Regions from separate parts of the Homo sapiens genome. Here region 2 is linked to region 1. Evidence: fine-mapped expression QTL. Tissue or cell type: whole blood. Region 1 holds a variant in brackets; the other region holds the start of a gene. All regions are shown on one strand. Distances are between the middles of the regions.

The links. PIP is the estimated chance that this variant, and not a neighbour inherited with it, causes the effect.
Region 2: it holds the start of RBM28, and the variant in region 1 is fine-mapped to the expression of RBM28 in whole blood (TOPMed, PIP above 0.99).

The regions. Positions count from the first base shown.
Region 1 is chr7:128,285,601-128,288,360 of GRCh38, forward strand. No RefSeq gene overlaps it. Among named protein-coding and RNA genes, the nearest start is that of LEP, 46 kb to the left of the region's middle. The variant G/A (reference allele first, on the strand shown) is at 1,630.
Region 2 is chr7:128,342,677-128,345,305 of GRCh38, forward strand. RBM28 (RNA binding motif protein 28) reads right to left here and starts at 1,232. Exons shown (of 19, transcript NM_018077.3): 1 at 1,000-1,232. The coding sequence starts at 1,117. It also overlaps the pseudogene RNU7-27P. RefSeq lists an enhancer at 1,173-1,372.

The DNA of each region.
Region 1 (2,760 bases):
GGTGTGGAAACCATGGCACCTGTCCAGGGCAAGAAGATTGAGAATCTGGGCAAATGTGCTGGCAACAGGCAGGTCGAGGTGGGGCGGTCTCAGGAATTATTTAGGAGTAACATTTTACACCCTCCCCAAGAATCGGCAGAGCTTGGCCAGTGACATGGCATAGAGGTGAGAGCGGAGAAGTCTCCTACAACCGAAGTGTCTAGTGTGGATGATTGTGGATCATGGTGCCACAAACTGGGACAGATGATGTAGGAAAAAGAGTGAGCCAGAAAGTGTTTCATTTCCCTGTATTCCTGCATTAAAAACCTCCCTAAAATGTGGCCTTAAATAACAATTCATTATTTCTCATGATTGTGTGGGCCAAGAAATGGTCAGGGCTCAGCAGGGCAGTTTTGCTCCACACAACTTTACCTGGGGCCATTCTCTTGACTGTGCCCAGCCAATGGCTGGTCTGGAAGGTCCATGTGTCCCTCACATGCTCAGCACCTTGGTGCTCCTCCACATGGCCCCTCTCTCTCCAAGTGGCTAGCTTGGGCTTCCTCACAGCATGGTGGTCTTAGGATAGCTGAACTTCTTCAATGGGGTGGCCTCCCAGAGGGTGTATTCTAAGAATCAAAGGCAGATGCTCTATATCTTCCAAGTCCCAATCTCAGAAATGACACAAAGTCACTCTGCCACGTTCTATTGGGTACAAGAAGTCACTGATCCAGTCCATATTTAAGAAAAGGAGAAACAGCCTCCAACTCTGAATGGAAGGAGTAGCAAAGAACGTGTGGCCATTTTAACCCACCACAGTGGGTGCAGTGAATGCTGTGAGGTGCCACCCAGGTGCCCCTTCAGAATGGAGGCATTTGGTTCCCTGAGGGCGTATTGGCTGCTCATACCTGGGTCCCTCTCCAGGAACTGTCCTCCCCTAAAGGCACATCCCCTCTCCAAGGAGAGTCGCCATCCAGTGACTGGTGGGTGCGGGCATACCAGAGCCCAGCTCCCAGAGTCTCTCTGGAGCAATTCTGAAGGATCATCTCAGCTCTAGAGCTGTGGGACCAGCTGATGGCTCCGTGTGTCGAAGTTCAAGTTCTCCCTCTGCCTGGTCTGCTTTCCTCACTCCCTTCGGATGCTTCTCCCGAGTCCTCCCCAGTCATCTCCTGCACTTAAATGCACCTCACAGCATTTGCCAAGAACCTGCCCAAGGTTGAGGAACCTGACCTCCACCAAGAGGCTGAGCTCTGACTGGGAGTGTAGTGGTTGGACAGCCTCTGCAACAGTCAGAGCCTCCACAGTGGGCAGGGTTTGGGAGGCTGGAGGCTGGAGTCTGAGGGAGACATCTGGGCCTGTGATGGAGTCAGCAGAGTAAGGGGATCGGGAGGCTGAGGTGAAAACCACGTGAACATTTACTCAAACAATCTGCTAATGGTTTTTTTTTTGTTTGGTTGGTTTTTTTGTTTGTTTGTTTTTTGAGACAGAGTCTCACTTTGTTGCCCAGGCTGGAGTGCAGTGGTGTCATCTCGGCTCACTGCAGCCTCCGCCTCCTGGGTTCAAGCAATTCTCCTGCCTCAGCCTTCCAAGTAGCTGGGGTTACAGGTTCCCACTGCCACACCCAGCTTATTTTTGTATTTTTAGTAGAGACAG[G/A]GTTTCACCATGTTGGCCAGGCTGGTCTCAAACTCCTGACCTCAAGTGATCCTCCCACTTTGGCCTCCCAAAGTGCTGGGAATACAGATGTGAGCCATGCACCCAGCCGAAATCCGCTAATGTTAATCATCCGATTGTTTCCAATTTTCATTATTATAAACGTTAATACATGGCCTGATACCTAAATTCTTTCATTCACAGTTCTGATCATTTTTTTTTCTCATATTTTTAGAGACTATGTCTCACTAGGTCTTGCTAGGCTGGTCTTGAGCTCCTAGACTCAAGCAATCCTCCTGCCTAAGCCTCCTGAGTAGCTGGAATTACAGGCGTGCACCACTGCACCTGGCTCTGATCCCTTTTTTTAGTGAAAGATTTTGAGTGAAATGATTCATCGCTTGAGTGAAATAATGAATTAAAGAATATGAGCATTCTTGAGGCTACCAGGATTTTCCAAGGCCCCTTTGCACACCGCATTTACACGGCATTCTCCTTCAGCCAAATTCCCTAAATTCACAAGAGGCCTGATTTAGGGAAGGTCACTGATTCAGCTGGAGAGTTAATTATTCATTTGAATTGGTTTATGCAAAAAGCTCCAGAGAGCCCACAAGAATAAATTGAAAAGCTATTAGAACAGGCAAATTTAATAAAGTGGCTGGATGCAAAATTCAATAGCTTCCTCATCAACTAGCAATAACCAATTAGAAGATATAATGGGGGTGGGTGGATGGGGAAGCAGAGATAGCAACAATAACAAAAACACCTCAAATCTACTGCACCAGTGTTAGAAATGGAAACTATCTCTTATAACTTTGTAGACTTTTTTAGAAACCCATGAAATAATTAATTCAATGGGAAATCATGCCATGTTCCCAAATGGAAAGGCTGCATGTGCTGCAGAGTTGACCTGTAGGTTGAACACAATCCAATTAAAAGTCCAAGGAGATTTGCTGCTTTGTTGTTGTTAAGCATGCCACAGTTCTTCTAAAGTTTACTCAGAAGAAATACATAGGCAAGAATAGCTGAGAAAAAAAATGTGAAGATGAATAAGGAGGAATTTTGCCTTATCAGATATTAAATATACAATAAAGCTAAAATAATGAAAATAGTGTAGCCATGATGCAAGAATTAGCA
Region 2 (2,629 bases), 57 kb after region 1:
TCTTTAAAAAAAAAAAAAAATCTTACATGATCTGCTACTCTAGATCTCATCTCCTAATTCTCTTCCCTTTACTCACTTCAATCCAGTCACCCTGTCCTCCTTACTACTCCTCCAATATACCAAAAACACCTCTGTTTCAGTACCTTTGAGCTTGCTGTTTTCTCTTCCTGAATTGTTCTTCCTCCGGAGAGGCATGTGTTCACTCTCTCACCTCAGTCCGTCCTTCTCTGGCCACCCTATCTATATTGCCACTCTTCACCCCCTCTCCCCACTATACACATGCACATAGACTTCCTAACCCCTTTCCCTGGCTTATTTTTCTCCTTAGCATTTGACATCATTTTCACGGTTGGCTTGTTTATTGGCTCGTTTATTGGCTCTCTTCCCCACCTTGAAGACATAAAATCAAAGATTTTTTTGGTTTGGTGTTGTGCACTGCTGCATCCCCAGGACCTACAACACTTCCTGGCACACAGTAGGTATTAAGTATTTGCTGAATAAATGAATGAACAAGTGGATAGCATCCTGGCTAAGATGTCCAGGTCTGAGGATCAAATCGGGGGTCCACTACTTAACAGCCGTACAAACTTAAAGTTACTAAATTCCCCTAAATCCCGGATTCCTGTCTGTAAAATGACATTAAGACTCTCCATCCGGTAAGATTGCTGAGAAAATTAAATGAGATAACCTGTATCAAACTGATCACTGTACCTGCCAATCAGGTGACTCTCAATAAGTCTTACTGATGCTCTAGTTAACTATTTTCATTTTTAGCGCGCATAATCAACAGAAAGCGCTATAGAAACGTAAGGGAATGCTTTGCCCTTCATAAACTGACTCCTATGAACGCATCTAAAGCAGAATCAGTTTGGAAAAGAAACTCAGTTCCCTGTCCCTTCTCTTCGGGGAGGGTAAAGAATGATACGGCTCCCTGAAGTTTGGGAAGGTGCCCTCGATCGCAGGAAACCCCAGCCCTATCCTCGACCGCCCCGCCCCTACCTTTTTCAGTCACCACGAAGCACTGCTTCACCGGCCCCACCTGACTGAACAGTTCCTCCAGCTGCTCACTGCGGGCCGAGGGCGGGAGGCGGCCCACAAATAAGGTCAGGCCGGCCATGAGACCGGGAAACCCAAAGCGCGTGAGGACGCGAGCAAACTAGGCCGGCGCACGCGAGCCGAAACGCTGGCTTTGGTAGGACAACCAAGCTCACACGCCGAGAGATTCCGGAAGTGCTCGTTGCCCAAAAGAGACCGGAGGAAAACATGGTCGGGAGGGGGATAAAAGGTTCCGGAATGAAAAAATAATGGCGCCCCGGGGCGTAGCTTCTGGAGCGGGGCTCCGCCCCCTGCCCTAGCATCGCCCTCGCCACTTTTGTGTAAACTTGGCATCAATAATTTCTACCCTAGTGTTACAGCTTTTTTAGAATTTGCCTAGCAGGCTTTCTGGTTTTTGCCGGAAGGCCTCCAAAAAGTAATTTTTTTTCTTAATATACAAAATAAAAATAAATAATTTCTACCCTGTTTAAAAATCTCACCTCCAGATCCTCCCCAAAGTTAGCAGGACAGGCAGAAGAAGTCGTTTTTGCCCCGGGCGTAACTCAGGATCTGATATACTGTGGGTGTTTGATATTTTCTGAAGTGCCTCCACAAATTCCCAGATTACGTGCATAAAACACAACCGGAACACTAACACGTAGACATAGATATATCATATACATCATTCGGACGATTCTCATTTTCGGAGAACACCAGCTGTCTGTCACCTCAGCCTCACAAACAAATTGTAGCTACTAAAATACACATAGACACAGATAGTACACAATTATTATTTCAATAAATATATACTGAGCTCTAACTATGAGCCAAGCATTAGGGATAAAACTGGTGAGCAAAGAAATGACAGGGTCCCTGCCCTCATAGAGATTACAGTCTAATGGTGGAAACAGATTTTTTTTTTTGACAGGGCCTCACTTTATCAACCAGGCCGGAGTGCACTGGCACGATCTCGGCTTACTGCAGCCTCGACCTCCCAGGTTCAAGCAGTCCTCCTGCCTCAGCCTCCTGAGTAGCTGGAACTACAGGTGCACCACCACACCCGGCTAATTTTTGTATTTTTTGCAGAGACAGGGTTTCACCATGTTGCCCAGGCTGGTCTCAAACTCCTGAGCTCAATTAGCCCCCCTTAGCCTCCTAAAGTGCTAGGATTATAGGTGTGAACCACCACACCTGGCTGGGAAGACTATTAGTCCAAAAATTCTTACAAATAAATCACAGCACACACACTGCAGGACCACATCAAACACACTCAAAGCAAACATAACATCCAACTTATACACAGAGACCTAGAACCCATGTCCTCCTAGAAACAGAAGATCTTTGTCTCAAGTCAGCTCATCAGACAGACCCAAAGCTGAGAGCTCTTAATTGGCTAGGAAATCTGGGTGCTCCTGGTTCTGGAACACAGAGAGTGTTTGCCATGCCACTGGGCTCAGGACCTGAATAGGTGCAAGAGAGCTACACCTTGCAGAACAACTAGCTCAAAAAAAAGTACCCAAGGCCATTTTTTAAATAATTTTTTTTTTAGCAGACTCTTGCTCTGTCACCCAACTTGGGGTGCAGTGGCACCATC